4 linked regions of the Homo sapiens genome follow. The protein of the gene in region 1 interacts with the protein of each later gene in a pairwise test. Each region holds a gene or a part of one and is shown on either strand. Other genes may lie near its edges.

What was found.
Region 2: the proteins of P4HA3 (region 1) and CTNNBIP1 interact in binary tests that used the Homo sapiens proteins (3 or more experiments, as listed by UniProt).
Region 3: the proteins of P4HA3 (region 1) and MAGEA2 interact in binary tests that used the Homo sapiens proteins (3 or more experiments, as listed by UniProt).
Region 4: the proteins of P4HA3 (region 1) and FIRRM interact in binary tests that used the Homo sapiens proteins (3 or more experiments, as listed by UniProt).

Annotation. Positions count from the first base shown.
Region 1 is NC_000011.10:74,280,539-74,288,248, forward strand, and holds part of P4HA3 (prolyl 4-hydroxylase subunit alpha-3 isoform 1 precursor), read right to left. Parts: intron 5,854-7,710; coding exon 5,690-5,853; intron 5,448-5,689; coding exon 5,271-5,447; intron 1-5,270. UniProt on the Homo sapiens protein: Catalyzes the post-translational formation of 4-hydroxyproline in -Xaa-Pro-Gly- sequences in collagens and other proteins.
Region 2 is NC_000001.11:9,906,774-9,914,967, forward strand, and holds the start of CTNNBIP1 (beta-catenin-interacting protein 1), read right to left. Parts: upstream 3,497-8,194; 5' UTR 3,322-3,496; intron 1-3,321. UniProt on the Homo sapiens protein: Prevents the interaction between CTNNB1 and TCF family members, and acts as a negative regulator of the Wnt signaling pathway.
Region 3 is NC_000023.11:152,750,581-152,758,216, reverse strand, and holds the start of MAGEA2 (melanoma-associated antigen 2), read left to right. Parts: upstream 1-4,374; 5' UTR 4,375-4,429; exon of another isoform or gene 4,430-4,675; intron 4,676-4,825; 5' UTR 4,826-4,904; intron 4,905-5,703; 5' UTR 5,704-5,823; intron 5,824-6,394; exon of another isoform or gene 6,395-6,492; intron 6,493-6,642; 5' UTR 6,643-6,708; intron 6,709-6,788; 5' UTR 6,789-6,853; coding exon 6,854-7,636. UniProt on the Homo sapiens protein: Reduces p53/TP53 transactivation function through recruitment of HDAC3 to p53/TP53 transcription sites. Also represses p73/TP73 activity. Proposed to enhance ubiquitin ligase activity of RING-type zinc finger-containing E3 ubiquitin-protein ligases.
Region 4 is NC_000001.11:169,797,648-169,805,357, forward strand, and holds part of FIRRM (FIGNL1-interacting regulator of recombination and mitosis), read left to right. Parts: intron 1-1,209; 5' UTR 1,210-1,271; coding exon of another isoform or gene 1,272-1,311; intron 1,312-3,235; coding exon of another isoform or gene 3,236-3,258; coding exon 3,259-3,324; intron 3,325-4,973; coding exon 4,974-5,078; intron 5,079-5,521; coding exon 5,522-5,662; intron 5,663-6,427; coding exon 6,428-6,593; coding exon of another isoform or gene 6,594-6,601; exon of another isoform or gene 6,602-6,739; intron 6,740-7,710. UniProt on the Homo sapiens protein: Regulates PLK1 kinase activity at kinetochores and promotes faithful chromosome segregation in prometaphase by bridging kinase and phosphatase activities.

The sequences.
Region 1 (7,710 bases):
TAAACATGTCTACTTCTGCCTCTGTCATCAGAATGTCAGCTCATGAGGGCAAGGACTTGGCCTTTTTTCAGTGCTGTATCCCCAGGGTCCATTCAACACCTGGTGGTGGAGTAGGTGCTTAGTACTGGTTAAATAAACAAATGAATGAAATAGGGCACTGCCCTTAAAGGTACTCACAGGGCTCAGACCCAGCTCTGGTGCTTCACAGGCAGGCAGAGCAGTGCCTGGGGCAATGAGCTACACAGACAGAAGCTCTTTCCCTTCTCTGAAGCTTCCATAATGTCATTGTCCCTCCTGCTAAACCAGATAGACAGTCTTGGAAAAGCCTCTTCCTTTCCTTGGGCCTGTTTCCCCATCTAAATTCTGCACAGCAAAAGAAACTACCATCAGAGTGAACAGGCAACCTACAAAATGGGAGAAAATTTTTGCAACCTACTCATCTGACAAAGGGCTAATATCCAGAATCTACAATGAACTCAAACAAATTTACAAGAAAAAAACAACCCCATCAAAAAGTGGGCGAAGGACATGAACAGACACTTCTCAAAAGAAGACATTTATGCAGCCAAAAAACACATGAAAAAATGCTCACCATTACTGGCCATCAGAGAAATGCAAATCAAAACCACAATGAGTTACCATCTCACACCAGTTAGAATGGCAATCATTAAAAAGTCAGGAAACAACAGGTGCTGGAGAGGATGTGGAGAAATAGGAACACTTTTACACTGTTGGTGGGACTGTAAACTAGTTCAACCATTGTGGAAGTCAGTGTGGCAATTCCTCAGGGATCTAGAACTAGAAATACCATTTGACCCAGCCATCCCATTACTGGGTATATACCCAAAGGACTACAAATCATGCTGCTATAAAGACACATGCACACGTATGTTTATTGCGGCATTATTCACAATAGCAAAGACTTGGAACCAACCTAAATGTCCAACAATGATAGACTGGATTAAGAAAATGTGGCACATATACACCATGGAATACTATGCAGCCATAAAAAATGATGAGTTCATGTCCTTTGTAGGGACATGGATGAAATTGGAAATCATCATTCTCAGTAAGCTATCACAAGAACAAAAAACCAAACACCACATATTCTCACTCATAGGTGGGAATTGAACAATGAGATCACATGGACACAGGAAGGGGAACATCATACTCTGGGGACTGTTGTGGGGTGGAGGGAGGTGGGAGGGATAGCATTGGGAGATATACCTAATGCTAGATGACGAGTTAGTGGGTGCAGCGCACCAGCATGGCACATGTATACGTATGTAACTAACCTGCACAATGTGCACATGTACCCTAAAACTTAAAGTATAATAATAATAATAATAATAATAATAATAAAAGTTTGGGACAAAAAAATAAAAAATAAATAAAATGCAGCTTATGAACAACATGTGCTTGCGAGTTCCTCTCACATGTGGCTCTACAATCTTAGGAAGCAGGAAATCAGAAGGGGATTGATGTTGCCTCCATCCATTGTCCCTGGTGTCCTGTCCTGAGCCATTTGTAGAGGAGAAACTCATAGAAGAGAGATGCTCCCTTCTGTTCTTTTAGGGCAAAATCAATGGTTTAAAAAAAAAAAACAAAAAAAAACCCTAAGGAATCCCCCCCATCCCAAATTAAGGAGTCACCTTATATTTATTTCCTGTAACAATCATTAATTGTCTACCTACCAGTCACTCGTTTTTTGGAACAAATATTTATTGGTTGTTCTCTGTGCTAAGCACTGTGCTAGGCACTGGAAAAACAATGTTAATCCAGACAATGTCCCTGCCCCTAAGACATCTAATGGGGCCATAATAGGCAAGTATAGAATGCCATGGCAATAGAAAGAGGGACACATAGCCCATTCTTATGAGGGACAGGGAGTCTTTCCAGGATGTCCACAAGACACACTGGAATCATACAGGTGAGAAGTCAAGGGCAGTTCGTTCCAGGCAGACAGAAGAGTGTGCAGCTGGAGCGTCAAGTGCCGGGGGAGATGTGGTAGAAGGGGTTGGCAGCAGCCAGGCCATGGAGACTTGTAAGCACTCAAAGGCAAAAGTGACCCAGTGAAGAGTTTCAGCAAGGGCTTGAGTGGTCAGACCTGACCTTTTAAAGATTTACTCTGGCAGCAATGGGAAGAACATGGGGCAAGGCATTTGCAGAAAGATGATGCCTGCTAGTTTACAGTCTGACTGGGGAGACAGGATGCTGACCCAGGAAACTGTCAGTGATGTCAAACAACACATAAATGGCAGAATACATTTAAAAATTAAGTACCAAACAACCAGTGAGAAAAAGCTTAGAGTTCAGAGGAGGAATAGGTAATTGTATATGGCTCCAAAAAGTGCTCTGAAAAAGAACCAAAGGAGGCCAGAATGATCAGGGCTAGCGGGCCCAGCGAAGGTGCAGGGCTTCAACTGAGTCTTCAAAGATGGGCAGGATGTGGTGAGAGAGAGAAGTGATGAGTGAGTGTGCTTTGGGAAAGGGACAGTGACTAGGAAGCAGAGATATTCAACACAAGCCACTGAGGCATCTGTCTTCAGTTCCCATGGGGAAGCCACTACCATGTCAGTCCAGGGCTGATTCCTGGGAGAGCCACAGACCAGACAGGCATCAGCAGCCCCAGAGAGACACTTCTAGGGGAAGGAAGTGTGCCAAGATCTGTGCATGCTAAATGGACGACATGGCCATGAACATTTAAATCAACGTCTCTGGGTGGGTCACTTCTCCCGTTACCATGGCAACAGGGCTGTTATAAGGAAAAAGCAGCTGCTGGCCAAAAGCTACTACTGCTGGCTCACTGCAAAGCTGAACCTGTTTGCTCCAATTCACCAGTGGGGCTTAATTATCTCAAAAAGCTTCTGTGCAAAGATTCTAGACTTTCCTGGAGGGGCTTTTAGATGAAATGATGATTGCCCCTCTTCTCCCTCCAATCCATGTCTGCTGTTACAGTCTTCCTTAAAAATCAGACATGATCATGCAACTCTCCCATTAAAACTGTCCAACAGCTCTCCTGCTGCCTACAGGATAAAATCCAAACTCCCCGGCATGGCATTTATAGCATCTGCTAATGGTGTCTCACATCTAGCTTCATTTCCTATCACCTCTCGCCCCCATCCCTTGCACACTTCAGCCACCAAGCTTCTGCCCAGTCTCTGAACATACCACATATCAGGCCCTTGCACATACTGTTTTGTCTTTCTGGAATACCCTTTGCTACCTTCTTTCTCTGATAGATGTCACCTCCACAGTGAAGCCTTCCCTGATTCTTCCTCCCTTCCCCATCTCTTCTTCACCCAATTGCCTTTTCTTTAGAGGAAGCCTTGCTTTTTTATGTGCATAGCACAACTCTCTGCCCACACCTCTATGATAGCATGTATCATAGTGTAGTGTAAATATTTGTTTTTCTCCATTGTGCACTAAGTTTCCAAGAGGAAAGAACCAATACTTCATCTCACTGTAAAAGCCCAGCACCCAGGCCAGTGTCTGGCACACAGTGGGCTCTATTCTGTTGACGAATGACTAATGGCTGCCTGGATGAACTGCACATGTTAAGGGCACAATGTCTGGCTTGACAGAAATAATTCTGAGACAATATCTTTAAAGAGGCAACATGCTTATAGAGGTGCATTTTTTCTTGTTAATATTTAGCACACTTCCTAGGGGGAGGATTAAATGTCCTCTTCCCATTGACATCCAGCTTGGCTTGGTGACTTGCAGTGCTTTCCCTGTGGAAGAATTAGAACCTTGCTGTTAACTGCAGTAGTGCCCACATGCTTTGCTCTGACCAGTGAAACATGGGTGGAAGTAACATCTGGCACTTCCATGCAGAAGCTTTATGAACCAGCTCATGTTTGCCATTTGTCTTTTTCCTCTTCCATGAGACTGGCAATGTCCCATACAGAGGCTGCTCTGTCAGGCTGGGTCTCCAAGTGAAGACAGTGGGATGGCTTCAATCAAAATTTAATCTAATCATGATTGTAATTTAATTTAATCATGATTGTAATTTAATTATAATCATAATTACATTATAACTAAATTTTTCCTTAAAACAGCCCTGTTGCCATGGTAATGGGAGAAGTGACCCACCCAGAGATGTCTATTTAGTCATTCATGGCCGTGTCGTCCATTTGGCATGCACAGACCTTGGCACACTTCCTTCCCCTAGAAGCATCTCTCTGGGGCTGCTGATGCCTGTCTGGTTTGTGGCTCTCCCAGGAATCAGCCCTGGGCTCACATGGTAGTGGCTCCCCCATGGAAACTGAAGACAGATGCCTCAGTGGCTTGTGTTGAATATCTGCTTCCTAGTCACTGTCCCTTTCCCAAAGCACACTCACTCAACACTTCTCGCCACATTCTGCCCATCTTTGGAGACTCAGTTGAAGCCCTGCACCTTCGTTGGGCCCGCTAGCCCTGATCATTCTGGCCTCCTTTGGTTCTTTTTATAACGAAATTATAATAATGATTGTAACTGAATTACAAAGTTTAATTTATAATTATATGTTATAATTTATAATTCATAAATGAGGCACAGAGATTAACAATAAAATATAATAATAATAATATACTGTAATAAAATTATGGGAAAATGACCTCTCTCTCTCAAAATATCTTATTGTACTACACTGAGAATAACTGAAACCACAGAAAGTAAAATTGCAAATAAGGGGGACTACTGTACCTCTAAGTTCTAGCTGTGGCTCTAGCTACATGTATGAGCTTAACAAGTCCCTTCCCCTCTCTGGGCCTCGGTTTCCTTTTTAACAAAATAATGAAGTTTAGCTTTCTACTCTAACTCTGTAAATTTGTGCTAGGATTTTACTCCTTGCCGCTGTCATTTCACCCTTTTCCCCACCTCTACCAATTACATAGAATGGTTGACACTTTTGAAGTGTTCTTTTTTATTTGTCTTTTTTTAGGTTAAACTTACATACAATGATATACACAGGTCTCAAGTGGACCATTTGGTGAGTTTTGACAAATGCATACAGCCACATGTACCACGTCCCTAACAAGATATTGAGAGCACATTTTCAATACCCCAGAGAATCCTCTTGTACATCATCCAGTTAATCCTTTCCCTCTAGAGGCAAGCACTATTGTGATTTTTTTCCACCATGGACTAGTTTTATGGAATGGTTGGCATTCTGAACTCCTTGGCTCTTTGAGGTGTCTAGTTGTTCAGGTTGCCTATTCTTACACTCCTGAACTCCAGGCATGTGAAGATGAAAGAGAAATTCTTGGCGGGTTCTCAGGACACTCACCCATGGTTCTGCAAGTTCTCTAATTTTCTGAGCCTCTGAGTCACTGACGAAGTCATGGTAGAGAGCAATGTAGGGCTCCAGGTGGATGACCTCCTTCCGGATGGGCTGGAGCAGCAGGTAGGCGTTGGAATTGGTCTCATAGGAACAGTAGAGGCTAGGGATCTGGTAGAGAGTGGGCTGGAAGGAAAGAATAGGATGAGCATAAGAGAAGAAGGGTCTAGGAGCAAAACTCAACTTAGGGGAACTATGGCATAAAAAAATTGGAATGCAAGAGATACAGAATGTGGTCACTCTGATGCTGCCCAAGTGAGCTTTATTGTTTTTAATGCATCAGCTCTATCCCCTCATGTTATCCCAATTCTAGCTTCTCAAACTCTAGCCAGGCCTCTCCCCCTTTCTCTTTCCCTGAGGAATCCTACCTGGGAACCCAGGGTCTGACATAGCCCCTCGTAGGTGTCTCTGGTCTGCAGGTGGGGTATATTGGGCCTCTGGATGACAGCCTCAGCTACCACGTGGTTGGGGCTCTCTGCCAAGAGCCTTTCATATTTCAAGACATTCCTGGCCATCCTCTTATTATCTGGGCCTGGAAGAAATCAGAGCAGGGAATATAAAATAGGGATTAACAAATACTGGCCCCAGGGAGTGCCACCAAGGTTTCCTCCAGCTTCACTGCTGCACAGGATGGGCAAGTGGATCTCCTGAATAACTCCTCATGTCAACACACAGGAGGATGCAAGGCCCTCACTCCCAGAAGACTACCTGGTATTTTTTTAAAAGACTGACTTGATCCTGGTAGATCTGAAGGTGCAAAGGGTTTTGGGAAGCAAAGTGGAACTTAAAACTCTTAGGCCAAGGGATCATGAAGATGGCTGCTCTGGGATACTGTGATGGTATATATGGCGAAGATGAAGCCTCATTCATTCATTCATTCTTTCACCCATCCATTCAGTAAATCTTCAGTGAACATCTACTATGTACCAGATACTGTGCTACAGGTTGACCTCTCAGAGTTTAGAGTCTAATGGAGAAAAAGGACATTAAATTATCACTTACAACAAAATATGATAAGTGCAATGAAAGAGAAGTCCAGAAAGCCAAAGCCTATTGCAAAAGGACCCAACCTATTCTTCCCCAGAGAATTGGAAGCTAATTCATTCTTGGCTCCACTAGATCTTTCAAATCTCCTAACTGGCCTAGACCCAGAGCAAAGAAGTATGGCGCAGAGGGACTCTAGACTTTGGCTCTAGACTGGATTCCCACAGGGCCCTTGGGAAACCCAATAAATCTTGTGTCTTGTTTGTGCCCACCTGTTTGTACCCACTTTGGCTGCAAGATGCCCCATGCATTGGCAGAGCTACCCGTGGCCTGCTGGCCTCTTTGCATGACTCTCAATGCATCTCAGAAGGAGATGCTGAATTGTTCTAATGCTCCCAAAGCATCTTTCTCTGAGGAGCCCAGTGTGCTTCTAACCACAACCATCACCCTGGCAAAGGAGGAAAGGAAGGGGCAGAAATTACCATTCTGTTTTAACAAGAGAAGAAGTGAAGTTTTGGAGAATGGAAATTATAAGCCCAAACCCCAGTGAAAATATTGCAAAGCCGGAAATAAAACTGGGAATCTCAACTTGCCATGTTCTATTATCCACCTATAAAAGCACAAAATTTGAGTGGATAGCAAAGATTTTAATAGATCAAGTGCAAATAAATAAAGAAGGGTTGGATTATAATTTTGTTTGTACCACTAATTACTCATGTGTTTGTAGATACACAGCTACTTCCTTATCCTATTGTTTGCTAATTATCAGAAGGGAATAATGTTACTAAATGGATTCATTAAAAAGTTTTGTATACATGCAATTATAAAGTCCTACATGAAATACTTTATAAATATTAAAACAAAATAGTGATTTTGTATCTCATTGTAGTATCTAAATACTAAATACTCATGCCTGTAATCCCAGCATTTTGGGAGGCTGAGGCAGGTGGAACACTTGAGGCCAGGAGTTTGAGACCAGCCTGGCCAACATGGCAGAACCCCATCTCTGCTAAAAATATAAAAATTAGCTGGGCATGGTGGCACATGGCTGTAATCCCAGCTACTTGGGAGCTGAGGAACAAGAATCACTTGAACCTGGGAGGCAGAGGCTATAGTGAGCCAAGATTATGCCATTGCACTCCAGCCTGGGTGACAGAATGAGACTCTGTCTCAAAAAACAAAACCAACAAACAAACAAAAAAACCACACCCCTAAAAGCAAAAGCAAAACAAAACAAATAAATACTGTATTAAAGAAAAACCTAGGAAGCTATCTACCACTAAAATGTTAAGCAAATACATACATATAACTTTGAGGCAAACATTTCCAAGCAGATACCTGAGTTAGGAAGCATCTCCCTCCTGTTTAACTCATTTTATTGTCAGCAAGAGACTCCCTGAAGGGG
Region 2 (8,194 bases), on another chromosome or scaffold:
CTGATGAAAAGACAGGGGCAGGGGCAGGAGTCTTGGTGCGATGAGATGCCCAGGCAAGTCAACCAATATTTGAAGAGTTTACATTTTGTGCAGGGCGCTGATTCAGACACTGTGGACGATGCAAAGACAAACCCAGTAGAGATTCTGGCCTCAGAAAGCTTAGAGTCACATGTGTACACATGGAGATGAAATGGGGTAGAAACTAGCAGGCATCATAAGAAAATGCATAAACTGCTATAAGATTTCAAAAGAGCCAGCTTCTAGGGGACACAGACGCTTAACCATAAAAGAAGGGGCTGGCCTGTGTAACCCCCAAGGTCCTCTCATTCTGACATGTTCTGACAGCACAGATTTGGAGCAGCATGGAGATAAGTTTTATTCTGTTTTTTGGGGAGTTTTTTTGTTTTTTGTTTTTGAGACAGAGTCTTCCTCCGTCGCCCAGGCTGGAGTGCAGTGGCACGATCTTGGCTCACTGCAACCTCCACCTCCCTGGTTCAAGCGATTCTCCTGCCTCAGCCTCTCGAGTAGCTGGGATTACAGGCACTCGCCATCATGCCCAGCTGATTTTTGTATTTTTAGTAGAGACGGGTTTTCACCATGTTGCCCAGGCTGGTCTTGAGCTCCTGACCTCAGGTGATCCGCCCGCCTTGGCCTCCTAAAATGTTGGCATATACAGGGGTGAGCCACTGCACCTGGCCTCATTCTCATTAATAGCTCAAGTTTGTGGCCACTGAAACATTCTCCTACCTACCATGAGAACAGGCCCAATTTCCTGGTGCAACATCTTCCAACAGTGGCAGTAATGTTCCCATTTAAACAATACAACCGGATGTGGGAATGAAACCCAGTGTATTATGCCCTCCTCCACCTCTAACTGGTTTTTAAACCCACAAACCCTCTCCAATCAAGGAGGCGGGGACCTGTTCTGTGAGCACGTTGTTATGGGACATCTAACTCTCAGTCTCCAAAGTTTTGCTTTGCAGCTCTCCCAGAGGGAACAGACTGATTCCACCTCTTCGTTTCCACTGCCACTGCCCCGATCCCTCAAGCCACCATCATCTCTTGCCAGGCAGCTGCAATAGTCTGTCTCATAACTGGTATTCCTGCCTCCACCTTTGCTCCTTAGAATCCAGTCTCTACACAGTGGCCAGAACAATCTTTTGGAACAAATCAGACTTTATTCTTTCTCTGCTTAAAACCCTCCAATGGCCTCTAACTGTTCTTGGAATAAAATCCAAACTCTTTATTACGACCTACAAAATCTTTGTTTTGATCTACAGGTTCTTTTTCTCCACCCCCGCCCAAGACGGAGTTTTGCTCTGTTGCCCAGGCTGGAGTGCAGTGGCGCAATCTCGGCTCACCGCAACCTCCGCCTCCCAGGTTCAGGAAATTCTCCTGCCTCAGCCTCCCAAGTAGCTGGGACTACAGGCATGCACCACCACGCTCAGCTAATTTTTGTATTTTTAGTAGAGACAGGGTTTCACCATGTTGGTCAGGATGGTCTCGAACTCCTGACCTCGTGATCTGCCCGCCTTGGCCTCCCAAAGTGCTGGGATTACAGGCATGAACCACTGAGTCCGCCCTGATCCACAGATTCTTTTTTTTTTTTTTTTTTTTTGAGACGGAGTCTCGCTCTGTCGCCCAGACTGGAGTGCAGTGGCGTGACCTCGGCTCACTGCAAGTTCCACCTCCCGGGTTCACGCCATTCTCCTGCCTCAGCCTCTCCGAGTAGCTGGGACTACAGGTGCCCACCACCACGCCCAGCTAATTTTTTGTATTTGTAGTAGATATGGGGTTTCACCGTGGTCTCGATCTCCTAACCTCGTGATCCGCCCGCCTCGGCCTCCCAAAGTGCTGGGACTACAAGCGTGAGCCACCGCGCCCGGCCACAGATTCTTATATGTAATCTGGCCCCTCTCCATCTTCATAGCACTTACCACTACTGAAATTATTTTGTCCACTTGTTTGTTTACTCACTTATTGTCTGACTTTCCTCCTCTTTAAAATGTCATCTCTGAGGAGGGCAGAAACCGTGTCTGTCTTCACCACTAAAGCCCCAGTACTTGGAACGGTGCCTGGCACATAGTAAATGCTCACTACTGAATGAATGAATCTCCATCCCATAGAGGTGATTTGTATTTACAAGGGAGGACCACGAACTCCCCCAGCAAACCGTGAATGACACATTGGCATTTAACAGCCCGCACCTTTATTTATGATCCAAAGTCCTACTTTAAATCTGAGGAAGCTGCTGGTATCTCTGGACATTTTAATGGCACAAGAGATCAGTTATCACTTGGGGACACACTCCAGGAACTGGAGCCCAGTGGTTGTAGCAGGGAGCTAAGAGCCAAGGCTCCTGCGAACAGAACTTCAAGACAAACCATGACTTGCCTCCAGGTCCCTTACCCACACACCCTGTACCTCAATTTACCCAGCAGTTGGCCAGACATGTTCCTCTCAGTTCTGTGAGTGACAGGAGACAAAATAATTCACAGCTGGAGCATACTGAGATCCTCAGACAGGAGGTGGTGCAAGCCACACGTCTCATTATTCATAAAACTCTTGATTTGCGGCCAACACGGCCCCCGCCGCCTTCCCAGGGGCTAACCTGACAACAGGCACTGCTCAGACAAGTTCAGCTCACAAGGCAGAGGGAGGGATGGAGGGCCTAGCAGAGGCTGGGTGTCCAGACCTGAGTGTCTCGGTTACCAGGTTCCAAAAAAAGGAAGGTGGTTGGGGTGGGGTGATGAAAAGGAGGTGAGAGGTGCAGTTTGGGGCTCCAGGTGGTTAATTTTGCAGGTTCGTGCATACACGCCCGCCATCCAGGTGAGATATGTGCCCCCACCAGGTACCTTCCAGGAAGGCTCACCGGGGAGGGGTGGAATCGGGAGACGACAGTTCAATCAAACTACAGAGGGAGGAAGGGCGGCCCAGCGTTTAGTTTGGGGAAATATGGAGAGTAAGAGTCTCAGAGTGGGCGCAGGTGAGGGAAGAGGCAGGGGCCCAGAGGTCGGGAGGGCGGACGGGCGATGACAGGCACCCGGACGCGGTGAGGTGAGCAACAAGGTGGGCGGCGCGGACACCTGTGGAGGCGACCCCCGGGCGAAGAGTCAGGGAGGCGGGAGGTGGTCTGCGGCGAGAGGCGGCCAGGCCCAGACCAGGGCGCCGCGCCGCTGGGGCAGTCAGGGGTCCGAGCGGGGTCGGGGGCGCTCTCCGCGGCCCCTCCCCGGCAGACAAAGGGCTGGCCGCTCCCCCAAGCCCCGGCGCGGCGCGGCGCGGGCCCGGGCGGTGCAGGCGCGGCCCGGCCTCGGCGCTTACCTGGGCCGCCCGACCCGGCCGGGCCGGCAGGGGCAGCGGGTCCGGCGCGCAGCGCGCGGCGGCCTGTTCCGGGGCGTGCTCAGCCCGAGCAGCCGCTGCGGCGGCGGCAGTAGCAGCAGCAGGAGCGGCCGCCTCAGCCTCCGCCTCCCGCTCCGAGAGTCACCGCGGTGGGGAGGGAGGGAGGCGCCAGGCCGCCGGGGGAGGGACCGGCGGAGGGGGCGGCATCTGGCTCCGCGCGGGCTGCTGAGGCGCGGCGGCGGCAACGCCCCGGAGGGAGGCGGGCGCGTGGGGCCGGGCGCCGGGGCGGGGCCTGCGGGCGGGGCGGGGCCCGGGGCCGCGAATTGGTTAACTCAGCCTGTGGGCGGGGCTGCGCGGTGCGGGGCGGGGCCTTGTGGCGCATGTGAACGCTCATTGGGCCCTCCTGGAAGGGGGCGAGACCAGCGACATAGGGACGGGGCCATGCGGTGGGCGGGTGGAACACGGCGCCGGTAGTGAGTGGCCGAGTCCGCGCTGAGAGCAAAGGGGAGGAGCGGGCCGGGGGTGAGCAGGGAAGGCGGGTTGGGCGCGAGGAGGAGGCGGTGGCCTGGAGGAGGAGCCGGGTAAGGCTGAAGCTGGCGCTGCGGTAAAGCCACTCTGCGTGTCCCTATCTGCTCCAGGAGCACAGTGTTCCGGAAAAATAATGGCCTCTCCCACACACCGGTCTGTGTTTAAAAACGGGAGCAACAAGACGGGGCAGAATCCTTGGTGAGGCCAGTTTACCCAGAACCCCGGAAAATTCTGAAATGGACGAGGTTGCAGAACATTTAGAGGCGTGGTCTTCCTGCGTCGTTGAGCTGGGAACGTTGCTACCTCTGAGCTTGGGGCCTAACCTGGGATTAACCTAGCCCAGAGAGCCCAGGGATGGGCCTCCGTAGGTCCATTAAACTCAGAAGGTCGTGTGTACTGGTAGTGAGTGGATTTTTCGGGGGAAGGGTGCCCATGATTAAAATGTTTCTACAGAAAGTCTGGCTGTATTTGGAGAGGGTACAGGGAGAAGCAGCCCATTTTAGGTAAAATGCAAATTGCTTTTAACATCCGCCTTCCTTTTAAAGGGACCTGTATCTTTAAGTGTGGTCTCATTTTCAGCAGTTTAAATTATCAGTTACACAGTGTGACACTAACCCCAGTTCAGAAGCCCTCCTACCCTACTCCTCCCACAGCCTTTCTTTTTACACCTTTTCTGTACCATCCTCTTCCACTCCACATTTCTTCCCCTTCCCTATGCAAAAAGAATACGAAGTCCTTTTTTGTTTGTTCGTTTATAATATAATATCCACATTACTCTTTACTCATTTGGGGGGTTTTTTTGTTTTTGAGAGGGAGTCTCGCTCTGTCGCCCAGGCTCAGGTGCAGTGGCGCGATCTTGGCTCACCGCAACCTCCGCTTCCCGGGTTCAAGCGATTCTCCTGCCTCAGCCTCCTGAGTAGATGGGATTACCGGCATGCGCCCCGGCTAATTTTTGTATTTTTAGTAGAGACGGGTTTTCTCTATGTTGGCCAGGCTGGTCTCCAACTTCTGACCCCAAGTGGTCTGCCCGCCTCGGCCTCCCAAAATGCTAGGATTACAGGCCTGAGACACCGCACCCGGCCTGCTCACACTTTTTCATACTTAATAGGTCCCCGGCCGGGCGCAGTGGCTCATGCCTGTAATCTCAGCACTTTGGGAGGCCAAGGCAGACAGATCACCTGAGGTCGGGAGTTGGAGACCAGCCTGACCAACATGAAGAAACCCCGTCTCTACTAAAAATACAAAAATTAGCCGGGCGTGGTGGCGCATGCCTGTAATCCCAGCTACTCAGGAGACTGAGGCAGGAAAATCGCTTGAACCCGGGAGGCGAGGGTGCAGTGAGCCGAGATTGCGCCATTGCACTCCAGCCTGGGCAACAAGAGCGAAACTCTGTCTGAAAAAAAAAAAAAAAAAAAAATTGGTCCCCAAGTGGGTTTCTCCTACAGTGTCCCCACCTTCAGTAACTGGCACCACTCTCTACCCAGTTGCTTACACCAGACACTTAAATTGTACCGTTGACACCACTCTTTCCTTTATTCTTCATTTCCAGTCCATGTTGTTTCCAATTCTAAATGGTGTCCTTAATCTCTCCACCTCCTACCATCTCTACCCCTCTTTCCCAGTTTAACCTGCCACCAGCTATCACCTTGACTCCTGCAATAACCCTTCAAGCAGTCTCTCCTTTAGGCTCTCCTTACGCCCCCATTCACTGCCCACACAGCAACTAAAGGAAACTTCTTAAAATCTTGTCAGACCTGCGCTATTCAACGACTTCTCTTCATTTTCACGAGGAAGTTCAAAGTCCTTAGTGTGGCAACAAGGCCTTACAGGATCTGGCTACAGCCTGATCTTGAACCACTTTTGCCAACTGGGCTCTAGCCACATATGGGCCTTGTGCCTGTTCCTTGATCACAGGGAGCTCTTTTGTGCTTCAGGTCTTCTGATTGCGCTGTTCCCTTGGCCTCAATGGCTCTTTTCCGATTTCTCCCCACTTCACCTGCCTGAATACTTGGTCTACTTCCGGGAGACCTCTTAATGGATGCTAGCCCTAGTCCCACAGCATGGCTATAAACTCCAGGAGGGCAAGGACCATGCCACCAAGCACAATACCTGTATCCACAAATATTACTGCAGGAACAAACTGAATGTGTAAATACTCCATCCAGGACTTTCCCTTCCATCGGCCGGCCAGCCACTCCTACTCCCCGCCTCCGACCCCCAGGGCTATCAGCCTTCTCCTCCTTACTCTTCTCTCACTGCATTTATGGTTCGATATTTTCTCCTTTCAGCTCTGGAGAGGGCCTCCGTGTGGTCCCAGAACATATATTAGGTATCTTTTTTTTCTTTTTTTTGAGATGGGGTCTCAGTCTGTTGCCCAGGCTGGAGCACAGTGGTGCAATCTTGGCTCACTGAAACCTCCACCTCCTGGATTCAAGTGATTCTCCTGCTCAGCCTCCTGAGTAGCTGGGATTACAGGCACCCGCCACCATGCCCAGCTAATTTTTTGTATTTTTAGTAGAGACGGGGCTTCACCATGTTGGCCAGGCTGGTCTCGAACTCCTGACCTCAAGTGATCTGTTGGCCTCAGCCTCCCAAAGTGCTGGGACTACAGCTGTGAGCCACCATGCTGGCCTATTATGTATCTTTAAATAGTTGCTTTCTGGAGCAAAAAAAGAAAAAAAACACTATTTTTTTTCTCTTTTTTTTCTTTCTTTTTTTTGAGATGAAGTCTCATTGTCGCCCAGGCTAGACTGCAGTGGTGTGATCTTGGCTCACTGCAGCCTCCGCCTCCTGTGTTCAAGTGATTCTCCTGCCTCAGCCTTCCTAGTAGCTGGGATTACAGGCATGCGCCACCACGCCCAGCTAATTTTTGTATTTTTAGTAGAGACAGGGTTTCACCATATTGGCCAGGCTGGTGTCAAACTCCTGATCTCAAGTGATCCACCCGGTCTCAGCCTCCCAAAGTGCTGGGATTATAGGCGTGAGCCACCGTGCCCAGCCAAAAAACTGTTCTCTACAGCAAAGGATAACTATAAGAGTAAAATTTTCAGGCGAAGTATGAAATAACAGTGCAACCATAGCAGGCTGCAGGGAAGGATAACTGTTTTTTATTTATTTAGAGATGGGATCTCCCTCTGTCACCCAGGCTGGAGTGCAGTGGCATGGTCCTAGCTCACTGTACCTTAAACTCGCAGATTCAAGCAATTCTCCTGCCTCAGTCTCTGGAGCAACTAGGGCTACAGGCGTGTGCCACCATCCCCCAGTTAATTTTTTTTTTTTTTGAGACAAAGTCTTCCTCTGTCACCCAGGCTAGAGTGCAGTGGCATGATCTCAGCTCACTGCAACCTCTGCCTCCCGGATTCAAGCGATTCTTCTGTCTCAGCCTCCCGAGTAGCTGGGATTACAGGCGCCCACCACCATGCCTGGCTAATTTTTGTATTTTTAGTAGAGACAGGGTTTCACTGTCTCTACCAGCCAGGCTGGTCTTAAACTTTTGACCTCAGGTGATCCACCCACCTCGGCCTCCTGAACTGCTGGGATTACAGGCATGTGCCACCGCACCCGACTTTTTTTTTTTTTTTTTTTTGAGATGGGGTTCACCATGTTGCCTAGGCAGCTCTCTTAACTCCTGGTCTCAATCAGTCCTCCTCCCACCTCGGCCTCTCAAAGCACTAGGATTATAGGCAGAAGAGCTATTTTAAAGCAGTTGGGGGTTTATGGCAACAACTTAAATTTTACTCTATAAGAAGGTCTTCTGCTTACAAGTTGAGCAAGTACAAGGTCAGAATGAGTAAATTAATAACTTCCAGTATTTAGAAAGTGAAAAAATGATCTTTTGCTCTGGTCTCTTTGTTTGCCATCCTGTTTGCATTTGGTATAGCTCTAACTTCTCTGAAGACAGACAATTAAAAGGAGGCTAAGTGCACAGCAGACAAAGAGTGTCACAGTCATGTGTCACCCTCTTGTGTTGTGCCTTGGCAAATACTTGTCATCTAATTTTACTTTGGAGATGATAAGGAATTATTAAACACAATGATGAAAGCATTTTGTAGATCGGTGAATATACATATTTTGTGTCATGAGTGGGGTATGTGCAGCTGTGAACATCTGGCTCTCTGCCAGCATGCCCCCCAAGTGTTAGTCTCTGTAGCATCTGATGAGTAGATCTTCCCGACATCACAGAACCCAGCTTTTATGTGTTTGGGAACAGTATAAAGAAATAATTATTCATTTCTTTGGCTGAGTGTTTTGATCAACCAACATGTCTTCTAAGTGTATTTTGTCTGTGAAGCCTGAAACATTCTAATCACCTAGTAAAGACAAAGCA
Region 3 (7,636 bases), on another chromosome or scaffold:
TTAAGAGAATGAAAACAGAAGCCACAGACTAGCAGAAAACATCTGCGGTACACATATGTGATAAAGAACTTGTCTCTACAATATATGCGAATTCTTAAAGCTCAATGATAGAAAAAATGAAAATAGTCAAAGATCTGAACACACACTACACAAAAGAAGATATACACATGGCAAATAAGCATAATAAAAGTACTGAGCACCCTTTGGCATTAGATAATTGTGTACTAAAATGGGATACCACTGCACACCTATCAGAATGTCCAAAATCCATAGAAAACCAAAACAAAGAATACAAGACCAAGAACAATTGCCAGCGAAGATGTGGAGCAACGGAAACTCTCCTTCATTGCTGGTAGAAATGCAAAATGGCACAGCCACTTTGGAAGGCAGTTTGGCGTTTTCTTAAAAAAATGAAAATAGACTTAGCACAAGATTCAGCAGCCATACTCAATCAATTTACCCAATTGATTTGAAAACTTATGTCTACATAAAAATTTGTATATGAATGTATACAATAGCTTATTTCATAATCACCAAAAATAGAAGCATCCAAAATGTATTTCATTTGGTGAATGGATATATATATATATACATATATATATATATATATAACCAGACATTGATACTACTCCTCAATGAAAAGGAATAAGTTCCAAGCCACACAAAGTTATACATGACTCTTCAGTTCATTATGCTAAGTGAAAGAAACCAGTCTAAAAAGGCTACATAGTATAAGATTCTATTTATATGACATTCTGGAAAATGCAAAATTATAAAGATGAAAAACCTATCAGTGGTGGCCATGGGGTTTATCCGACAAGCACAAGGGAATTTATCAGGGCAGTGAAACTGGTATGCATAATACTGCAATGGTGGTTCCGTGCTTGCTTTGGTCTGAATATTTGTGTTGCCACAAAATTCATCTGCTGAATTACCAAGGTGATGGTATTAGGCAGAAGGTGGGGTATTTGGAGAATGACTAGATCATGAGAGCAGAGTCCTCATGAATGGGATTAGTGTTTTTATAAAACAGACTCCACGGAGATCCCTTATCCCTTCTTGCATGTGAGGATCTAGGGAAAAGGCAGCTGTCTATGAACTAGGGAGCAGGACTCCACCAGACATGAAATCTGCCAGCACCTTGATCTTGGACTTCCCAACCTCCAGAATGTGAGAAATAAAGTTGCGTTGTCTATAAGCCACCCAGTCTATCACTATTTTTGTTATGGAAGCCCAAACGGACTAAGACAATGGCACGAGGCATTTGTCAAAACCCATAGATCTTTACAGCACAAAGAGTGAAGCTTAATGTATGTAAAGTTTAAAAGTAACTTAAGAGGTTGGAGAATCACGGGACGGCAGGTAGAATGTTCCACACACACACACACACACACACACACCTAGTTGTATAATAGATATATGAAACCACCACAATGAAGCAAGTGGGGGGAAAAGTTAACACATTTTGTACTCCATCAAAGAAATATATATTTTATAAAGTTTAAGTTGGCCAGATAAGTGTGTAACATAGTTGAACATTTGATAATCATTTATTTAATTTTTTAGATATGAAAACTATCGGCTTTTTGTTTTAAAAAAATCCTTATCTTTTAAAAATGCATATTAAGTTATTTAGAGATGAAATGGTCTAATGCCTTAGATTTACTCCACGTTATTCCAGCAGCTCATATGCAGGTAGGCGAGTGTTTAACTGGAACCAGATTTGCTGTGTATTTAAAGATGTTCATGCTCGGTATCAAGTATCCTGGGTTCATTATATTCGTTCCTGTTATTCTGTATGTGTGAAGGCTTTCCCTAATAAAACTTTTTTATCATAAATATGCCATTAAAAGTGAAATCCTAAATGAAACTGACCACTTTGTAGAAATAAAATAAATCAGTAACCAAACTGATCCAAAGAGGAAAAGAAAACTTTAACTATACAACAGAAACTGTACAATATTCAAAGCTCAAGCCACCCTCAAACATTCCAGGTTAGACAGCTTTGGAGGCCAATTTTACCAAATGATCAGGGAAAACTAACCACCGCCTTATATCAACTCTTCCAGAACATACAAAAGACTGACAATTGTTCAGTTCATTCTCCCAGGCTAGCCCTCCTGGATTTAAAAACCAGATGAGGACCACATACCTCCCCTGATGGAAAAAGAACACATCAAGTAAGCTCTCTTACACAGCAGTAAATATCCTACATAAATTAGTAGTACATTAAACGAATAAACAGGCTCTGCCCAAGGAAATAAAATATGATTTAACATTAGAAAAAACATCTGTTTCATTGTGATTCCTTACATACAAAATGGAAGAGAAAAAAATTTGATCCTGCCAACGGGTACAGAAAAAGCTTTTTAAATAAATTTAATATGAATTCATGGTAAAAAAGAAAATATTTAGGCAACCTATACTGAAAGAGAACTTCCATTTCCTAAAATCAACAGCAAACATACTTAAATGTCAAATGTTCGAAGAATTATCATTCAAGTCAGGAACGAGAAGTAGATGTAGCCTATTATCTCTACATTTGAAATCAGGATTGAGACACAAAGAGCTGTAAGTACCGAAATGAGTGAGTGGTATGAACATTGGAAAAACATGTAGTGTTTAGTGATAATACCATTATCGATCTTGAAAATTCAAAGGAAAAGGTATGCGGAATATTCAAGTGCATCGGCCTTCAGAACGAGGTGTGCAACAGATTACTACAGCAAAATCAAAATCTTCACCTCACGAAAGCAATAACTAACTACAACAATTGATAGACAATATGCCACTTGCAATAGCAACAAAATCCAAGAATTACCTGAATAGAAGCCTAATAAAAATGTATAAGTTGTTTATAGAGGCAACTACCGAAGTATACTGACATATTCAGGAAAAAAGAGCTTGAAATCCATAGAGGAGTATAACATATTCATTCACGGGGAACACAACAGTGTAAAAATGTAAACTCAGCTTAAATTATTTACAATTTAGTGCCTTACCTGTAGCCGCCGACATTACAAGCAAATTTGGGCTGCTGTGCTCTGCTTCCCAAATCAACCCTGTAAATTTATAGAATGGAAACAGAAAGTAAAACACCAGTATCAGCAAGAAAATCTACACAACAAAACAGGGAAAGCCCAGAGTGAGACTGGAGACTGTGTTGAGCTGGTACTTGTGTGTGACACTTGCAGTGTCTGTTGGAGGGGGTTAGCGGCAGAGATGTTGGGGAGGTTTGTAGCCTGCCTAGACGGCAGATGAAAGAATGGGTAGAATAAAAGTTTTGAATTTTCCACTTCACTTCATTGCACAATCTGAGGCAGCCCCTGAAAACACGATGCCAAGAGCCCTAGGTAATAGCAGTGTCCACCAGGAAAATTGGGTTTGTTAAGGCAGCATGGCTCCAGAGTTCTGCTAATAACAACCTGAAACCAACAGAGTGGGAGAGGAATTATGTTTTTTAAAAAAATTCTTTCAACAGAACACAAAGACTGGAATGGAAGTAGACTAGGATATCAGAGTGAATCATGCATACTAAGGGTAGGTGTTAGTTCATAGAAATAAATATATATATTGCTACCTACATATATACTTAGAAGATATGTAAACCGTATTTCTTCAATTCAGAGAATAAATCATTTAGGACCAAAGGTTTGCCAAGTGTAGCTCTGGCTGGGGAGGAGCCCCCGTGGGAAGGTGTGCGTCTTCTCCCAGAGGTCACTATCATCGCGGGAGCTCCTGCCCTGCAGGGAGCACCTGGCCTGGCACCCGCAGCCATTCTCTACAAGGGGTGCAGATGCGCAGATGCGCAGATGCTCAGAGGTGACAGAAACAGAGCATCTCCCACCCATTCCTTCATCAAACAGCCAGGAGTGAGGAAGAGGACCCTCCTGAGTGAGGACTGAGGATCCACCCTCACCCACATAGTGGGACCACAGAATCCAGCTCAGCCCCTCTTGTCAGCCCTGGTACACACTGGCAATGATCTCACCCCGAGCACACCCCTCCCCCCAATGCCACTTCGGGCCGACTCAGAGTCAGAGACTTGGTCTGAGGGGAGCAAACACAATCGGCAGAGGATGGCGGTCCAGGCTCAGTCTGGCATCCAAGTCAGGACCTTGAGGGATGACCAAAGGCCCCTCCCACCCCCAACTCCCCCGACCCCACCAGGATCTACAGCCTCAGGATCCCCGTCCCAATCCCTACCCCTACACCAACACCATCTTCATGCTTACCCCCACCCCCCCATCCAGATCCCCATCCGGGCAGAATCCGGTTCCACCCTTGCCGTGAACCCAGGGAAGTCACGGGCCCGGATGTGACGCCACTGACTTGCGCATTGGAGGTCAGAGGACAGCGAGATTCTCGCCCTGAGCAACGGCCTGACGTCGGCGGAGGGAAGCAGGCGCAGGCTCCGTGAGGAGGCAAGGTAAGACGCCGAGGGAGGACTGAGGCGGGCCTCACCCCAGACAGAGGGCCCCCAATAATCCAGCGCTGCCTCTGCTGCCGGGCCTGGACCACCCTGCAGGGGAAGACTTCTCAGGCTGAGTCGCCACCACCTCACCCCGCCACCCCCCGCCGCTTTAACCGCAGGGAACTCTGGCGTAAGAGCTTTGTGTGACCAGGGCAGGGCTGGTTAGAAGTGCTCAGGGCCCAGACTCAGCCAGGAATCAAGGTCAGGACCCCAAGAGGGGACTGAGGGCAACCCACCCCCTACCCTCACTACCAATCCCATCCCCCAACACCAACCCCACCCCCATCCCTCAAACACCAACCCCACCCCCAAACCCCATTCCCATCTCCTCCCCCACCACCATCCTGGCAGAATCCGGGCTTTGCCCCTGCAATCAACCCACGGAAGCTCCGGGAATGGCGGCCAAGCACGCGGATCCTGACGTTCACATGTACGGCTAAGGGAGGGAAGGGGTTGGGTCTCGTGAGTATGGCCTTTGGGATGCAGAGGAAGGGCCCAGGCCCTCCTGGAAGACAGTGGAGTCCTTAGGGGACCCAGCATGCCAGGACAGGGGGCCCACTGTACCCCTGTCTCAAACTGAGCCACCTTTTCATTCAGCCGCGGGAATCCTAGGGATGCAGACCCACTTCAGCAGGGGGTTGGGGCCCAGCCCTGCGAGGAGTCAAGGGGAGGAAGAAGAGGGAGGACTGAGGGGACCTTGGAGTCCAGATCAGTGGCAACCTTGGGCTGGGGGATCCTGGGCACAGTGGCCGAATGTGCCCCGTGCTCATTGCACCTTCAGGGTGACAGAGAGTTGAGGGCTGTGGTCTGAGGGCTGGGACTTCAGGTCAGCAGAGGGAGGAATCCCAGGATCTGCCGGACCCAAGGTGTGCCCCCTTCATGAGGACTGGGGATACCCCCGGCCCAGAAAGAAGGGATGCCACAGAGTCTGGCCGTCCCTTGTTCTTAGCTCTGGGGGAACCTGATCAGGGATGGCCCTAAGTGACAATCTCATTTGTACCACAGGCAGGAGGTTGGGGAACCCTCAGGGAGATAAGGTGTTGGTGTAAAGAGGAGCTGTCTGCTCATTTCAGGGGGTTGGGGGTTGAGAAAGGGCAGTCCCTGGCAGGAGTAAAGATGAGTAACCCACAGGAGGCCATCATAACGTTCACCCTAGAACCAAAGGGGTCAGCCCTGGACAACGCACGTGGGGGTAACAGGATGTGGCCCCTCCTCACTTCTGTTTCCAGATCTCAGGGAGTTGATGACCTTGTTTTCAGAAGGTGACTCAGGTCAACACAGGGGCCCCCATCTGGTCGACAGATGCAGTGGTTCTAGGATCTGCCAAGCATCCAGGTGGAGAGCCTGAGGTAGGATTGAGGGTACTCCTGGGCCAGAATGCAGACAGGGGGCCCCATAGAAATCTGCCCTGCCCCTGCGGTTACTTCAGAGACCCTGGGCAGGGCTGTCAGCTGAAGTCCCTCCATTATCCTGGGATCTTTGATGTCAGGGAAGGGGAGGCCTTGGTCTGAAGGGGCTGGAGTCAGGTCAGTAGAGGGAGGGTCTCAGGCCCTGCCAGGAGTGGACGTGAGGACCAAGCGGACTCGTCACCCAGGACACCTGGACTCCAATGAATTTGGACATCTCTCGTTGTCCTTCGCGGGAGGACCTGGTCACGTATGGCCAGATGTGGGTCCCCTCATCTCCTTCTGTACCATATCAGGGATGTGAGTTCTTGACATGAGAGATTCTCAAGCCAGCAAAAGGGTGGGATTAGGCCCTACAAGGAGAAAGGTGAGGGCCCTGAGTGAGCACAGAGGGGACCCTCCACCCAAGTAGAGTGGGGACCTCACGGAGTCTGGCCAACCCTGCTGAGACTTCTGGGAATCCGTGGCTGTGCTTGCAGTCTGCACACTGAAGGCCCGTGCATTCCTCTCCCAGGAATCAGGAGCTCCAGGAACCAGGCAGTGAGGCCTTGGTCTGAGTCAGTGTCCTCAGGTCACAGAGCAGAGGGGACGCAGACAGTGCCAACACTGAAGGTTTGCCTGGAATGCACACCAAGGGCCCCACCCGCCCAGAACAAATGGGACTCCAGAGGGCCTGGCCTCACCCTCCCTATTCTCAGTCCTGCAGCCTGAGCATGTGCTGGCCGGCTGTACCCTGAGGTGCCCTCCCACTTCCTCCTTCAGGTTCTGAGGGGGACAGGCTGACAAGTAGGACCCGAGGCACTGGAGGAGCATTGAAGGAGAAGATCTGTAAGTAAGCCTTTGTCAGAGCCTCCAAGGTTCAGTTCAGTTCTCACCTAAGGCCTCACACACGCTCCTTCTCTCCCCAGGCCTGTGGGTCTTCATTGCCCAGCTCCTGCCCGCACTCCTGCCTGCTGCCCTGACCAGAGTCATCATGCCTCTTGAGCAGAGGAGTCAGCACTGCAAGCCTGAAGAAGGCCTTGAGGCCCGAGGAGAGGCCCTGGGCCTGGTGGGTGCGCAGGCTCCTGCTACTGAGGAGCAGCAGACCGCTTCTTCCTCTTCTACTCTAGTGGAAGTTACCCTGGGGGAGGTGCCTGCTGCCGACTCACCGAGTCCTCCCCACAGTCCTCAGGGAGCCTCCAGCTTCTCGACTACCATCAACTACACTCTTTGGAGACAATCCGATGAGGGCTCCAGCAACCAAGAAGAGGAGGGGCCAAGAATGTTTCCCGACCTGGAGTCCGAGTTCCAAGCAGCAATCAGTAGGAAGATGGTTGAGTTGGTTCATTTTCTGCTCCTCAAGTATCGAGCCAGGGAGCCGGTCACAAAGGCAGAAATGCTGGAGAGTGTCCTCAGAAATTGCCAGGACTTCTTTCCCGTGATCTTCAGCAAAGCCTCCGAGTACTTGCAGCTGGTCTTTGGCATCGAGGTGGTGGAAGTGGTCCCCATCAGCCACTTGTACATCCTTGTCACCTGCCTGGGCCTCTCCTACGATGGCCTGCTGGGCGACAATCAGGTCATGCCCAAGACAGGCCTCCTGATAATCGTCCTGGCCATAATCGCAATAGAGGGCGACTGTGCCCCTGAGGAGAAAATCTGGGAGGAGCTGAGTATGTTGGAGGTGTTTGAGGGGAGGGAGGACAGTGTCTTCGCACATCCCAGGAAGCTGCTCATGCAAGATCTGGTGCAGGAAAACTACCTGGAGTACCGGCAGGTG
Region 4 (7,710 bases), on another chromosome or scaffold:
GATTCTCCTTCCTCAGCCTCCCGAGTAGCTGAGATTACAGGCACGTGCCACCATGCCCGGCTAATTTTTTGTATCTTTAGTAGAGATGGTTTCACCATGTTGGCCAGGCTGGTCTCGAACTCCTGACCTCGTGATCCGCCTGCCTCAGCCTCCCAAAGTGCTGGGACTACAGGCGTGAGCCACCGTGCCCGGCCGGGTTATTCATTTTTCTTATTAACATTCTTTGATGATTCTTATGGTGTTGTTACAGTAAAACATTTCTAACAATTATTCTAACAATTATTCTTGATGGTGTATATGAAGAATTTATTGTCGTGTATTTGTAAGCTGCTATGTGCAGAAGAATTTCAGTCAAATAAAGTTGGTAAGATAGGTATGTAAGTAATATGAAAAAAGATAGAAGGTGATGAGTGACTTAGGTATAAATTAAGTACAATAGAAATGTTGAGGAAAGAAAAATTTCTTGTAATAGAAATCGGAAGTACAAACTGGGCATGGTGGTGTGCATCTCTAATCCCAGCTCCTTGAGAGGCTGGTATGGGAGGATCACTTTAGCCCAGGAGCTTGAGGCTGCAGTGAGGTGTGATCATGTCACCGCACTCCATCCTGGGTGACAGCAAGACCGTCTCTCTTTTTTTTTTTTTTTGAGACGGAGTCTCGCCTATGCTGGAGTGCAATGGCGCGATCTTGGCTCACTGCAACCTCTGCCTCCCAGTTTCAAGTGATTCTCCTGCCTCAGCCTCCTGAGCAGCTGGGATTACAGGTGTGCGCCACCATGCCCAGCTAATTATTTTGTATTTTAAGTAGAGACGGGTTCTCACCATACTGGCCAGGCTGGTCTTCAACTCCTGACCTCTTGTTCGCCCATCTAGGTCTCCCAAAGTGCTGGGATTACAGGTGTGAGCCACCCCACTTGGCCCCGAGCGAGACCCTCTCTCTAAAAAAAAATAAATAAATAAATCATAAACCTGTGGATTATTGTAGCATTGTTTCTCATCTGTCAAAAATATTTCATGACTATGCATAGTTTGAAAAGGCAAGTTTGTCCCTGGGCAATTTTCAAAATATTTCTTTAATGTGTTTTCACAATACTGTTTACCTAATAAATCTTAAGTTTTTAAAAGCAAAATTAAGCCAGTAATTTGAGTCCAATTCCAATCTCTTATGAGTCATTGCTTAAATTTCAAAAGGGTTTTATTTTTTTTTTAGGTTTGTTCTGAGTAATGAATACCCTATTACTATGATACTAGTATCTTCCTTAATTATCCTACTCATTGTCTCAACATTCTGACAGTTGGATTGAGCATATTCGTAAGTAAAATTGTTTTAACTGTATGATGTACTTTGATGTTAAGGTCCGAGTCCCCACATACCTCGGTAGATGTGTTCTTACAGTTTTGTATTCCCTTGAAATGTAACTGTTCTCTATGTTACAGCCTTTATAACCTTCAGTTACTTGAAATGAACAAATTCATTCAAATTCCAGCACTTAAAAGTTTTAAATTACATTTTGGATAAATACCAAAGTGTTTTGTTGATGATGTATGTATAAACAAATTGTAAATATTAAACGTTAGTTGTTACGATTAGACCTATATAAAACATGATATGCAGTCTACTGAATAGCTATCAGCCTCTAACATGTTTAGTGTCATTTAGAAAATGCTTTCTAAATTGCCAAAAGCTGATTGTCTAGGTGATAACAAATTTACCATTTGGAGGAAGTTGACTTTCTCATTTTCATGTCTTCATCAGTCTTACTTGATGAGATTCATTCTTCTAGTCAGAAGAGAGTTTAGACTGCTCAGTTTACTCATATTTTGAGTTAGCTTTTCTATTTAGAGTTCACTTGGTTGTGGAATATTCATTTATAATTTGAATCTACGTTGTGTAATGGGACCTAATTTTTTTTTCCTTTGTTTTTGTTGGAGTCTCGTTTTGTCACCCAGGTTGGAGTGCAGTGGCGTGATCTTTGCTCACTGCAACCTCCACCTTCCAGGTTCAGGTGATTCTCCTGCCTCAGTCTCCCAAGTAGCTGGGATTACAGGCATGCTTCACCACGCCTGGCTAATTTTTGTATTTTTAGTAGAGATGGGGTTTCACCATGTTGGCCAGGCTGGTCTCAAAACTCCTGAGCTCAAGTGATCCTCCTGCCTTGGCCTCCATAAGTGCTGGGATTACAGGCGTGAGCCGCTGAGCCTGGCCCCAGAGTTTGTTTTGTTTTGTTTTCAAGACAAGATCTCACTCTATTGCCCAGGCTGGAGAGCAGTAGTGCGATCATAGCTCACTGCAGCCTGAACTCCTGGGTTCAAGCTATTCTCCTGCCTCCATCTTCTAAAGTGCTGTGATTACAGGTCTGAGCCATGATGCTTGGCCTGTGTTTTTGTTTGTTTGTTTTGGGGGACAGGGTCTTGCTTTGTCACCAAAACTGGAGTGTAGTGGTGCGAACATAGCTAGCTCACTGCAGCCTCCATCTCCCACGCTCAAGCAATCCTCTCACCTCAGCCTTCCAAGTAGCTGAGACCGCAGGTGCGTGCTACCATGCGTGGCTAATTTTCTATTTATATATTTATTTTTTGGTAGACATGAGGTCTTGTCATGTTTCCCAGGTGGTCTTTAACTCCTGGGCTCAGACAGTCCTCCCGCCTCAGCCACCCAAAGTGTTGGGATTACAGGCGTGAGCCACCATGCGTGGCATAATTTTTTTTAAGTAAATTATTTTTTTATCTTGAGTATAGAAGTGATTCATGTTCATTGTGGAAAATATGAAACATATAGAAAAACAGAAAAGATTACAAAACATCTAATCTGAAATGGTTAAGATTTTGATGAGAACAGTCTCATCTCATTTCCGTATATTCCTGCCAGCCTATCCATCATTCTTCGTACATGTTTATCTACATTAAAATTGGTGTTATATTTTGGAAACTTTTTGTTTAACTACATTGTGAACATTTTTCATGTTTTAAAATGTCATTTTAATGATGGCAGATCCTATTCAATAGATGTACACACACCTATTTAACTGGTCCACAATTGTTGGATATGTAGGTCGTTTCCTTTCTCTCTTTTTTTTTTTTTTTGGCTACTACTTAATAGTTTCTCTGTATAGAATGTGGTATTTTGAAAGTGTATCAAGCTTTAGATTGGTAGTATTCTTGCATTTAATAAAGGGCAGTGGCCTTTGTTGACTGACATGACAATATTTTTATAAAATTTGTTATTTGCTTTACAGAAATTTTGAAAATTATTGTAGAAATGTTTTTACCTCATATGAACCACCTGACATTGGAACAGACTTTCTTTTCACAAGTGTTACCAAAGGTATAATACTATTACCTGAAAATACATGTTATAAGGAATCTAGCCTCAGTCTTAGATGATTTATTATTAATTATGGCTCTCTTTTTCTAATATATCAAATATATTCAAAATAAAAATAAGGAGTAAGTAGATCTCATGTGAGACTATAATGGTGTTAGTGTGATCATTAGGCAGTTAAAAACTGTTACAGGCTGGGCACGGTGGCTCATGCCTGTAATCCCAGCTCTCTGAGAGGCTGAGGTGGGCAGATCATCTGAGGTCAGGAGTTCGAGACCACCCATGGTCAACATGATGAAACCTCGTCTCTACTAAAAGTACAAAAAATTAGCTGGACATGGTGGCAGGTGCCTGTAATCCCAGCTACTTGGGAGACTGAGACAGGAGAATTGCTTGAGCCTGGGAGGCGGAGGTTGCATTGAGTCAAGATCGTGCCATTGCACTCCAGCCTGGGCAATAAGAGCGATGCTCCGTCTCAAAAAAAAAAAAAAAAAAAAAAGAACTTATATTTTCAGATTGTGTGGTTCCTTTACTAACTGAATTTAAATTATTTGTAGTCAATTTTAAATGCTCTTGTATTTTAAAGCCACTGTACTCCAGCCTGGGTGACAGAGTGAAACCCTTAATTCAAAAAAAAAAAAAAAAAAAAGAAAAGCTGGAATATTGGCAAAATCAAGTAACTAAGAGAAAACATTAAATTCACAGAATACATTATTACATTTTAGATATATATGGTATATGTTTTCTCTGAAAAGCACAAGCATACCTTTTTTGTTTTAAATGGAGGGAACTAAAGATACTTTGGTGCCAAAATGAAACATTATTTGTAATTAATCTCTTATTGAAATGGGTTTCTAACTTTAGCTTTGAATCGTAATCTTTCAAATTTCTTGTACTCATAGTCACTTGATGATTCTCTATCTGAAATATTTCTTAGAATTTGTTCTTGACCACCAGAAAAAGATTCAACTGTTACATAGATGAAAATGGATGTTGAGTGTTAACAGGCCTATGGGAAACAGTATTTTCTTTAGCTACATTGTATTGTTGACTGTGTTGCTATTCTTATAATGTTTAGGTCATTTAAATTGTTAGAAAGATCCAAGTATTAAGATCTAGGGTGGCTAACTTTTCACAGACAAAAAGCTTGTTTGTAAGGTCATTTACTATACCCTTAATTCAGGAAGGTTAGCTTGAATTGGGTCAAAAGGAAACTGGTTAGAAAATAAGTGAGTAGTGAATAGGCGATTCAGTGCAAATTCCTTCCAGAAAATACCCTTGTAAATGACTGTATGAATGTGGATTCTTCAAGACAGTCAAATTTATTGTGCGAAAGTAATACTTTTATTTTTTGCATCTCTAAAACATGAACTTTGAGTGATTTTTTAAAAAAATTGATGCTATTAAATAGATTCAAACCATAGAAATGGAAAATAAATTTCTGTTTGGGGCTTTTGGGGGGATTATGTTGTAAAAATACCTTTTCTCTGTATTTTGTGCTTAATTAGGTACAATTGTTAAGCTAGATGATAGCCTGTGGATGTTACTAGTGCAAAATCAAATTATCGTATTGTGTTTTCTCTGTAAAGTTTTGTCTTGTCTTTTCTAGTGATTTCTCTTATTCCTGTTTATTACTTGATTTGTTTTTACAGACTGTGAAATTATTCGATGACATGATGTATGAATTAACCAGTCAAGCCAGAGGACTGTCAAGCCAAAATTTGGAAATCCAGACCACTCTAAGGAATATTTTACAAGTAAGTCAAATGTATTAGAAAGCAGGAGAGAGAGGGAGCTTAAAGAATGTCAAAATTTTTATACTGATACTGATTAGCTATGTATTCTTATGTAATGGCCTAATGTTGGAATTAAATTTATAGAATTAAAGACGTGAATATAGAAACATGAATTCTGAATAATAAACTCTTATAAGAAGAGAAGTCATCAAGCTAGCTGACCCTACCTGTATTTTCAAGGATATGTGTGGAACACCTGCCATGTGTTTTGAAGTTTGTGTTAGTATTCTAAATGGCTAGACAGTTGTTCCAGTATTTGTAGTTCTGATAGACTAAAGTTCTGTGAAAAGAGGAAGAGACTGTGTTTTGTTCATTGCTGTATTTGTAGCACCCAGCATGCTGACTAATACCTTTTCAGTGCACAAAAAATATATTCTAAGTGAAATTTCCTTCCTTATTCACAGACAATGGTGCAGCTCTTAGGAGCTCTCACAGGATGTGTTCAGCATATCTGTGCCACACAGGAATCCATCATTTTGGAAAATATTCAGAGTCTCCCCTCCTCAGTCCTTCATATAATTAAAAGCACATTTGTGCATTGTAAGGTGAGTAAAGGTCTAATTATACTTTGAATGGTATATAATCAATGTGCATAGGGGCTGAGTAAAATAATGTTTGTATAAGATTTTACATTTTAGTCTATATTATTGAAATAAACTTTTCCATAGAATAAAGAACATGTAAGTAAATAATTGTTGCAAAAAAAGTGGTTTTAAGGAAGTCATTAAAAGTGGCTTTTTGGGGTTTTTTAGTTTTATCTTATTTCCCCTCTATAAAGAAAGAAGTTTTAAGAATTTGTGTTGAGACAGACACAGGGATCCTGAAATAGTTATGTCATGTTGCATTGACCAATATTCAATTACCATTATGATTAGATGTCAGAACTTCCTTTTATAAAGGAAAGTTAATCCTTATTTAGTCCATCTCTACATGCCAGAGGTAGCCTTGAGGCACAAAAGCTTGCCTAGAATTTATGGGTCACAGACAGTTTTAATATTGCTATTTGTTGGGCGAATGAAAATCACTAGTTAATTAATACCTCTCTTTGCTGATAGGATGCTAAAAATGTCACGCACCTGGCCTAATGTTACCCTTTTTTAGTTCTGTATTTGCAAGATCATGGAAGTCAGAAATAATATTTTATACATGCTTGCATCTCTTGAAGCACACTATATTTAATGGATGTTCACTAAACAATGAATGAATATGTGATTCAGTAAATTTATGATCTCTAATAGTATGAATTAAAGTAAATTTGGCTCTTGAGCTTTGATTTGTTTTTTCTCTCATTTTTATTTATCCGTAATCAGAATAGTGAATCTGTGTATTCTGGGTGTTTACACCTAGTTTCAGACCTTCTCCAGGCTCTTTTCAAGGAGGCCTATTCTCTTCAAAAGCAGTTAATGGAACTGCTGGACATGGTTTGCATGGACCCTTTAGTAGATGACAATGATGATATTTTGAATATGGTAATAGGTGAGTGAAGAAAACTTTCTGCTTAGTATATGGTGACTATAAATCATGTATCAATTAAAATTGTCTCTAATGATTCATGTTATTTTCTTACTAATTATGCATTAAAATTGATTTAAATCTTACCAAATAAATTTTTAATCTTGAAATTTGGAATTTGTAAAATTTATTTTGGGTACCTTAACCTAGATTTGCGTATTTAGTTACTGTAATTTCTCCACAATGATTAACTTATATAACTTTATAATCTCTGAGGTTGTCCATATTCAGAGACAATAACTTTCACATTTTTTTAACCATAACTGATATTGAGATGCAGTTTATATTTCCTTCCAGAATACATATAAATACGTGCATATGTGTATGTAAATATGTCTATTCTCATATACATATTATAATGAAATAACTCATTTTACATGTGATGCACTTTATACTAGTTTATTTTTATTTTATTTTATTTTTTTGAGACAGAGTCTCACTGTGTAGCCCAGGCTGGAGTGCAGTGGCACAATCTCGGCTCACTGCAACCTCGCCTCCCGGACTCAAGCGATTCTCCTGCCTCAGCCTCATGAGTAGCTGGGATTATAGGCGTCCGCCACCACACCTGGCTAATTTTTGTATTTTTAGTAGAGACAGGGTTTCACCGTGTTGGCCAGGCTGGTCTTGAACTCCTGACCTCAGGTAATCCACCTGCCTCAGCCTCCCAAAGTGCTGGGATTACAGGCATGAGCCACCGTGCCCAGCCAATACTAGTTTATTTTTAAAGAATTGCTGGTCGTAACACACTTCATTGATTTTATCACTCATTAATGGATTATGAACAAGAGTTTGAAAAACAATATAAAGGCAAAGTTTGCATTCAAAACTTTGGTATAAAGAGAGTAAGTTGGTTTTGTGCAGTGTATCAGGCACCTGTTGCTCTGCAACACACCACCTCAAAATCTATTTATTCACTATTTATTTATTCATGATTCTGTGAGTCTGCAGTTTAGGGTGGGATGTCCTGAGACAACTTTCTCTGATCCACCTGGGGCACTAGCTCACCCATGTGACTTCAGTGACTTCATTCACATCTGGCTGTTGGCAGAGGCAGAAGTACTTGAGAAAGCCATGTGCATCA